Homo sapiens: one gene and its partner. The protein of the gene in region 1 interacts with the protein of each later gene in a pairwise test. Each region holds a gene or a part of one and is shown on either strand. Other genes may lie near its edges.

Region 1 (4,554 bases):
TATTTCCAGCATCTTTGTGATGATCTGGAGGTATTTGCTGCTCATGCTGGCCGCAAGACTGTGAAGCCAGAGGACCTGGAGCTGCTGATGCGGCGGTGAGAAGGCGGAAGGTGTGGGGGTGCTGGCTGGGGGAGTTTTGGTGCTGATTCTGCCTGTCCCTTCTCTTCCTCCACTGCAGGCAGGGCCTGGTCACTGACCAAGTCTCACTGCACGTGCTAGTGGAGCGGCACCTGCCCCTGGAGTACCGGCAGCTGCTCATCCCCTGTGCATACAGTGGCAACTCTGTCTTCCCTGCCCAGTAGTGGCCAGGCTTCAACACTTTCCCTGTCCCCACCTGGGGACTCTTGCCCCCACATATTTCTCCAGGTCTCCTCCCCACCCCCCCAGCATCAATAAAGTGTCATAAACAGAATATTCTGCATTTTGGTGCATGTCCTGGGGCCAGCCAGGCAGGGACTGATTCCCCCCCACAACTCCCCAGCACAGTCTGGAGAATGGCATGGATTCAGACAAACACTTTTATATTAAAAGCTAGGGGTTAGCAGGACTGGAGTACGCAGGCTGCCCACAAGTTCCTAGCTTGCAGGCTCTGGCTCTCGAGGTCCCACACGCCTGATGTCAATCACCTGAAGCCGCTCCAGGGCAGTCTGGAGGATTTCCACCACGGCTTCTTCCTTCTCGTCACCCTCCTCTGGCATTTCCGACTCAGGGAGCTGGAAGGCCTGGCTCATGTAGGTGTTCACTGTCTGCTTGTCCAGGCTGGGGTCGATGGTCATCAGGCCCCCTCGCAGCTTGGGCAGAGTCACTTCCTCATGGCTGCCCCACAGGAAAGAGAGTGACAGGCCCTGACCCCTCCTCTCCGTGCCCCAGACTCCCAGGTGCCCTCCTCTGTGCTGGGCTGAGCAGTGGATGGTGCATGGTGCACAGGGAGACCCAGGGGCTTCAGGGGCCCAGCCTGTGGGACTCGCCTATGGATGAGGGTCACTCACAGTTCTATGCCAAGCTCCTGCTTTAGCTGCTGTAAGTACTCGTCCTTCTCATCCATGTATTGTTCCCAGAGTTTTTGCACAAAGGGCTCACTCTGGCCCTCCTCATCCTGGGAGGGGCCACAAGTCAGGGGGAGGGCACATTGGGTAGGGTCCAGCCAAGGCTAGGGCAGGGGCCAGGCCAGTCCCCGGACCCCACACACCCACCTCCATAAACAGTGAGCGGTAGTTGAGCAAGTCTGCATTGCTGCTGCTGGGATGCCAGCCCCCTGCCTCCATCAGCTCCTGGATTTGCTCTTCTGTCTTGAGAGGGAAGGTACTCTTGAGGACAGTGCTGTAGGGGAGACATGAGGGCCAACAGGGACCTGCTGAGGCCTGCTTGTGCCTCTCCCTAGTGCTCAAAAGGGAGTGAGTGCCGAGGCTGTGGCCCTTCCCACCAGGTGCCCCTTTTCCCTACAGATGCAGGAATAGTTGGGTAGGAGTTGGGGGTAGCCTGGACTGGCCTCTCACTTGAACTGCTCCATGGTTAGTAGCCCCTCGTTCTGACTGTCAGCATTTGTCATCTCCTTCAGCAGCTGGGCTACTGTCTCCTTCTGGGTGACATACACATTCTCACTCCGCTATAAGGAGAGAAGCATTATTCACCTGCTGTTCCTGGGAGTGGTGGGGGCAAAGCTGGTCTATGCTAGGGACAAAGACCCCTCTCAGTCTCCCCAAGGGGAATAGGCCCCAGCTCACCTTTCCCATCAAGACTGCATAGAACTGACTCATAACCTCGTTGGAGTGGAAGATCTTGATATTTTCAAAAATAGTATAAGCCCAGGCCATGGCATCACTGGGCCCAAAGCGATGCTCCAGGAAATTGAAGAAGAAATCTGGGAACGTCTCTTTCTGCGGGATCGAGGAAATGCTCAGTCAGAGTCTTACGGTTGGTTGGCCCTCATCCCTGTCACCTCTGGACCTGCAGAGGACTCTGGATCTGAAGACCATGCTGGGCCAGAGTGGCTGGTGAGATCTGACCTGCTCCTCAGCAAGACGTTCCTTCCAGGCATCCTTGAGGAGGTTGACCACGTCCTTCTTGCTTGGCTTCTTGTTCTCCACGAGGCCATCAAACCGAAGAAAAGCAGGGATGGCTTCCCCATAGCCCTAGGAGGGAGGATATCAGCTCATCTCTGGACCCATCTGTGGCCCCACCCCCAATCAGGGAAGATCCCCAGTTGGTTCCCCAAAAGCTTGTCTGAGCAGCAGGGCATGGCTGTTCTGACTCTGGCCCAAGCCCCACTCCTGGGGCCTCCCCTACCAGACCAGGGAAGAAGTCTTTCTCCCGCAGCAGCCCCGAACCAATCTCTTCCAGGAGCACGTCCACCAGCTGGTCGCTGTTCTTGCCCTCAGCCAGCATCTGCCAGCGCTCTGGGCCCCCAGCCACCACATCTGCATGTGGGGAGAGGGAGCTGGAGTCTGGGCCCACATGTAAGCAGGACCTGGGGCCCTGCCGGCTGCCCTCACCTTTGCACTTGGTCCAGTCAGGCCGCGGCGTGGAAGTGCGCTGGATCTCCTGCAGCTCAGAGAAGAATTGGTCCCGTTCCTTCAGCGTGCTCATGTGCAGCTGCATGAGGATCTCATGCTCCTTGCGAACCTCCTCGTAGCTGGCTCTCAGGGTGTCCAGCTGTGGGCAAGGACATTGGCCCTGGCCCCCCACCTGTGAGACCCCGTCCTACCCTCCTGGCCCTGCCTGCCTGCCAGCACCTGCTCCTGAAGATCCTTGTTGGTCTTCTCCTGCATTTCAAAGTCCCTCCTGGGGACCACATCTCCAAAGTTGGCCTTCATGTTGTTGAGTTCCATCTGCGTGCGGGTCAGGTCTTGCCGGGTCATCTTAAGAGCCAGGGTTAACTTCACAGGGTCCTCCCCCCAGATGCCTGCCAGGGGAAGGGGCCCACCAGCCCGTGTCACCGTGGCTTTCTCAGGGGTTGCCTGAAGCCCTCTGCCCTTCCTGTTTGGGGTTCCCTGGTTCTTGCCCACAGCACTACCAGCCTAGGGTTTCAGGCTAAAGTCTAGAAGCCCAGGAAACTGAGTACCAGGCCTGTCCAGCCCACTGGGAGCCTAGGCTGCCTCAGCTACCAACTGTGTTCCTACAATTCTCAGTTCAACTCAGAAGATACACAGCCCTGCGGGAGGCAGGGACATCTCCCCTCTGAATGGTTATGGAATGAGCAGGTCTTAGGAATGCTGAATGAATGGGGCTTAGGGGTGAGACCAGAGTCTTCCAGCGTCTCAGAGAAGAGAGAAACCCGATTCCCAATTCAGGCTTACCTGGCGACTGGGCTAATGACATGTCCTCCCGCTGGTACCGCAGCTCATTCAGGTCTGCGATGAGGATCTTACAGGCATCTCGCTCACTGAGGTAGTGCAGGTACTCCTCAGCCAAGTTCTTCCTCAGTTTGGTCACCTGGCAAGAAGGTGGCTGTGTGGTCAGGGGCTGCCCCTGGACCCCTGTATGCAGCTGGTCACCCCAGGGAGTGGGCTGGGTTCTGGGGGGCCCCATCAGGGACTGTGAACAGGAAAGGTGAAAGAAGAAGGAGATTGGCCATTTCTGAGAATTCGGCAAGGTGCCAATGTTTCCCCCTGTGGGGAAAGTACTGAGCCTAGCAGCAGGGCAGAGGGTGGAGTTAGCAAGGCTCTGGGGGAAGGTGGTGGCTCAGTGTGTCACTCTCCGTAGAAAGGCAGAGCAGGGTAGGGGGTCACCCTTGTCGTGGAGTTGGCAGGAATTCGGGGACTTGGTCATCATCACACCACTTCCATTCACCTCGCTCTGCAATGAAATCTTCTCCTCATTCTTTTTGTCGATGAGTTTTAGCAAGTTCATCTTCTCTTTCTTGAGCAGGGAGATTTCATATTTCTCCTCAGCTCTCATGGCCAGGATCCTCTCATTGCAGTCCTCATTCACAGTGACAAGCTTGGCCTTCAGGGGCTCCAGAGCCCGAATCTTCTCCCTTTGGTGGGCTAAGCAGAGACAGGTGGGAGAGCTGCTTTGGGGCCATGGAGAACAAACAGCCAGAAGACACCCTAAGGTCATGGGTGAGTGGCTATGTCGCTTGCAAACCCCAAGAATCTCTGCATGCCTTGTTCAAAGCCATGGTCCCTGTTTCAGGCCTTCCTGCACTTGATTTTAAACAAAGGGCAGAGTTCAGATGAAGACCGGGGTCTCTCCTATGTCCTTTCCCCTACAGCCTTAAGTCCTGCAGCTGCACCATGCCCTGCACCTCCTGAGCCTGGCAGGGGAGCCTGCTGACTCCCAGAGGTGCTGACTCTCTCCTGGGGTTCACTCCATTTTCAACAGGGACTGCCCCCCTGTGCTTCTCAATGACAGGTGTTGTCAGGTGCTCTGGGGTGCCCTATCATGGAACAGTCTGTGCAGAATGGCTGAGGGGCCTTGGTGACCTCAAGGCCCAGTTGGTAGCTGCCCCAGCCCTGCTGTGGAGCACCAGAAGGTCGAATAGGATCTTCTCCACCCCTTCCAGGCTGGGACAAGGAGGGGAGCTGCATTCTTTTTTTTTTTTTTTTTTTGCGA
Region 2 (4,607 bases), on another chromosome or scaffold:
GAGACAGGGTTTCACCATATTAGCCAGGATGGTCTCGATCTCCTGACCTCGTGATCCGTCTGCCTCGACCTCCCAAAGTGCTGGGATTACAGGCATGAGCCACCGCACCTGGATGTTTTTGTTTTGAGACAGGGTCTCACTCTGTCACCAAGGCTGGAGTGTACTAGCACAAACACGGCTCACTACAGCCTCAACCACCTGGACTCAAGTGATCCTCTGACTTCAGCTTCCCAAGTAGCTAAAATCACAGGCACATGCCATGACACCCAACTTTTTAAGTTTTTTTTTTTTTTTTTTTTGAGATGGAGTCTTGCTCTGTCGCCCAGGCTGGAATGCAGTGGCGCGATCTCAGCTCACTGAAAGCTCCGCCTCCCAGGTTCACGCCATGCTCCTGCCTTAGCCTCCCAAGTAGCTGGGAATACAGGCGCCTGCCACCACGCCCGGCTAATTTTTTGTATTTTTTTTAGTAGAGACGGGGTTTCATCGTGTTAGCCAGGATGGTCTCGAACTCCTGACCTTGTGATCCGCCCGCCTCGGCCTCCTAAAGTGCTAGGATTACAGGCATGAGCCACCGCACCCGGCCTTTTAACTTTTCATAGAAATGAAGTCTCGTTGTGTTGCCCACGCTCGTCTCAAATGCTTGGGATCAAGCAATCCTCTTGTCTCAGTCTCCCAAAATCCTGAGATTAGAGGCCTTGAACCACCGTGCCCAGCTCATATAGCTATGTTTAATAAATGATGTTTATAAAGAATTTTTGGCTGGGCACAGTGCCTCATACCTACAATCCCAGCCCTTTGGGAGGCCAAGGCAGGAAGATCACTGGAAGCCATAAGGTCAAGATCAGTTTAAGCAACAAGGCGAGACCCTGACTCTGCAAAAAAATTTAAGAATTAGCGGGGCATCGCCAGGCATGGTAGCTCATGCCTGTAATCCCAGCATTTTGGGAGGCTGAGCTGGGCAGATTGCTTGGGCCCAGGAGTTCAAGACCAGCCTGGGCAACACAGTGAAACCCCATCTCTACTAAAAATAAAAAATTACCTGGGTGTGGTGGCACACACCTGTAGTCCCAGCTACTTGGGAAGCTAACGCACAAGAATCACTTGAACCAGGAAGGCAGAGTTTGCAGTGAGCCAAGATGGCGCCATTACACTCAGCCTGGGCAACAGAGCAAGACTCTGTCTCAAAGAAAAAAAAAATATTTAGGCCGGGCACAGTGGCTCACACCTGTAATCCCAACACTTAGGGAGGCCGAGGCGGGCAGGTCACCAGAGGTCAGGAGTTCGAGACCAGCCTAGCCAACATGGCAAAAACCCTTATCTACTAAAAATATAAAAAATTAGCCGGGCGTCGTGGCACATGCCTGTAATCCCAGCTACTCAGGAGGCTGAGGCAGGAGAATCGCTTGAACCCGGGAGGCAGAAGTTGCAGTGAGCCGAGACTGTACCACTGCACTCCAGCCTGGGCAACACAGTGAGACTCCATCTCAAAAAAAAAAAGAAATTTTTTTTAAATCATAAATAAAATTACAGTTATACTATAATCTCAACTACATAAAAACAAATTTTAAAATTATGTGTTAACAGTAATTTTTCCTTCGATGATGTAATAAATTATCATGGTTATGTTTTCCCCCACCACAATGAACTGCTTTTATTGTTCAAAAAAAAGAAAAAGAAGGCCAGGCATGGTGGCTTACACTTATAATCCTAGCACTTTGGGAGGCTGAGGCAGGAGGACTGCTTGAGCCCAGGAGTTTGAGACCAGGCTGAACAATGTTGTGAGACTCAGTCTCTACCAAAAAAAAAAAATGTTTTAAGTTAGCTGGACATGGTGGTACATGCCTGTAGACCCAGACATTTGGGAGGCTGAGGTGGGCGGACTGCTTGAGCCCAGAAGGTCAAGGCTTCGGTGAACCATGATTGTGCCACTACACTCTAACCTAGGTGACAGAGCGAGAACCTGTCTCAAAAAAGAAAAGGAAACATTACTTTTTGAAAAAGTTCACTGGAGGCCAAATGCACTGGCTCATGCCTGTAATCCCAGCACTTTGAGAGGCCAAGACAAGCAAATCACTTGAGATCAGCAGTTCGAGACCAGCCTGGCCAACATGATGAAACCGTCTCTACTAAATTACAAAATTAGCCGGGCGTGGTGTCACACATCTGTAATCCCAGCTATTCAGGAGGCTAAGGCGGGAGAATCACTGTCTCAAAAAAACAAAAAAAAAACAAAAAAAAAGGAAAATGAAACAGTGTATTGGGTCAGGTGTGGTGCCTCATGCCTGTAATCCCTGCACTTTGGGAGGCTGAGGTGGGCAGATCACCTGAGGTTAGGAGTTTGAGACCAGCCTGGCCAACATGGTGAAACCTTGTCTTTAAAATCTAAAATTTAAAAATTAGCCAGGCGTGGTGGCAGGTGCCTGTAATCCTAGCTACTCGGGAAGCCGAGGCAGGAGAATCACTTGAACGCAGGAGGCGGAGATTGCAGTGAGCAGAGATTGTGCCACTGCACTCCAGCCTGGGCAACAGAGCAAGACTCCATCTTAAAAAAAAAGAAAAAGTGTATCAGATTACTCCCTCAGATGCTATCTGTGATTCAAATAATCTGGGTATGAGCGGCTGAGCATGGGGTAGAGGGACTAGTAACAACTATGAACGTCTGTGAGTACCTTTTAAACACAGCTCTGGCCTTTTTGTAGCCACCACTTCGATAAGCCCAATCCAGGTACTTATTCTTCAGGGTTACTGAGTCGGCACCTATGACAGCTAAGAGAGCTTTCTACAATTTAAAAGAAAAAAGAAAGAAGCTATGTGAGAAAACTTATAGATACCAAAACAGATTTTCCCAGAACCACCTGAGGCCACTCCATAGTGCTTTAGGCGCACCTGCAACACTAGAGCTGACCAACCAGGGAACCTTCTGCCATTCCCCACACCACAAGACTTGGAACACGGAGCCTATACCTTAAAGACTGCCTCAGTGTCTTCTTGGCTTTTGGCACCTTCACTCCACTCTGCCCAGGAAATCCACAATGGCAGACAAACCTACTCCCAGTTTAAAAAATGTTAGTTAGAGAACAGCATATAACAAAACATCGCATGTACCCTATAAATATGTAAAATATTATGTATCAATTTTTTTATGCTATAAAATGACAGTTTAGTCCTATGCTCTGAAAACTAGTTAAAAAGGCAGGTTCCTCCTAAGATAATCAACATGTAAAATAGGGATTCATTCCCAAACAGTCCTCATTGTGACAGAATTCTCATTGCCCAGCAGGAATGGCACTCCAGAACACAGCCAGCCTTCTGACCAAGTCACTCAGAGCAACACTCTTCTGTGAATTTTAGTTCCTTTCTATTGGGAAATATTTCATGTAGTTATCATCAATCATCTTTTAGTTAAGTAAGTAATTAACAGCCCACACAGTTAGACCCACAGCTACCCAGGTCATGTCTCTGCTGTCTAAGACCCACAACACAAGAACTAATTAATCTAGGCTGAACTATCTGATCTTCATTCATGTCCCAGAGGTACGTACAAATGAGCAGCAAAAGCGAGGCATGGTGGCGCACATTTGCAATCCCAGCACTTTAAAGACGGAGGCAGGCGGATCACTTGAGGCCAGGAGTTCAAGACCAGCCTGGCCAACATGGCAAAACCCTGTCTCTACTAAAAATACAAAAATTAGCTGGGCATGGTGGTGGGCACTTCTTATCCCAGCTACTTGGGAGGCTGAGACAGGAGAATCGCTTGAACCTGGGAGGTGGAGGTTGCAGTGAGCCAAGTTTGCACCACTGCACTCCAGCCTGGGCAACAGAACAAGACTTCATCTCAAAAAAAAGGAAAAACCACCAAATGAGCAGTAGTTTTTTTCCTACTTTATCTTCTGGAATACGTTTTACCTACTAATATAAAAAATTCACTGCAAAGTGAATCTGGCCATACACCGTGGCTCACGCCTGTAATCTCAGCACTTTGGGAGGCCAAGGCGGGCAGATCACTTGAGGCTAGGAGTTCCAGACCAGCCTGGCCAACATGGAGATATCCTGTCTCTACTAAAATAGAAAATATTAGTCAGGTGTGATGGCATGCGCCTGTAGTCCCAGCTACTCGGGAGGCTGAGGCAGGAGAATTGCCTGAACCCGGGAGGCAGAGATTGCAGTGAGCTGAGATCACGCCACTGCACTCCAGCCTGGACAACAGAGCGAGACTCCATCTTAAAAAAAAAAAAAAAAAAGGTTGGGCTTATATTCAGCAAGTGACATTAATATTCTACTGGTATTTCTAACTTTATAAGATATCTAAATAGAATAGGAAGTTTTATTTAATTTGGTTAACTTTCAAATAAAGGATATTAAATAGAAGCAAATTCTTCTACTCTTAACCTATGAACCATCACCACTGAATAGCAAATGCCACTCTAGAGTTGGCTCTCAATAGACAAGTACATTCCAAATGAGCCTTGGCTAGTCTTAAAAGGTTTCCCAAATATAATGAATACAAAAGATCCAGCTCACTGACCTGGGGTTTCAGGTGCACAAAGGCTTCTTCAAAAAGCATGGCTATGTCAGGGCTCTTTGACTCGATCAGCACCTGCAGCTTC

The links. The genes of interacting proteins can lie anywhere in the genome.
Region 2: the proteins of TSNAXIP1 (region 1) and UTP6 interact in a two-hybrid assay, tested with the Homo sapiens proteins (one large-scale study listed by BioGRID).

The regions. Positions count from the first base shown.
Region 1 is NC_000016.10:67,824,015-67,828,568, reverse strand, and holds the end of TSNAXIP1 (translin-associated factor X-interacting protein 1), read right to left. Parts: intron 3,987-4,554; coding exon 3,790-3,986; intron 3,433-3,789; coding exon 3,297-3,432; intron 2,903-3,296; coding exon 2,733-2,902; exon of another isoform or gene 2,674-2,732; coding exon of another isoform or gene 2,653-2,673; coding exon 2,493-2,652; coding exon of another isoform or gene 2,418-2,492; coding exon 2,287-2,417; intron 2,133-2,286; coding exon 2,007-2,132; intron 1,878-2,006; coding exon 1,725-1,877; intron 1,607-1,724; coding exon 1,497-1,606; intron 1,321-1,496; coding exon 1,194-1,320; intron 1,097-1,193; coding exon 990-1,096; intron 817-989; coding exon 576-816; 3' UTR 501-575; downstream 1-500. Other genes in the region: CENPT (centromere protein T), read left to right, coding at 1-95, 179-302. UniProt on the Homo sapiens protein: Possible role in spermatogenesis.
Region 2 is NC_000017.11:31,870,709-31,875,315, forward strand, and holds part of UTP6 (U3 small nucleolar RNA-associated protein 6 homolog), read right to left. Parts: coding exon 4,526-4,607; intron 3,046-4,525; coding exon 2,965-3,045; intron 2,780-2,964; coding exon 2,670-2,779; intron 1-2,669. UniProt on the Homo sapiens protein: Part of the small subunit (SSU) processome, first precursor of the small eukaryotic ribosomal subunit.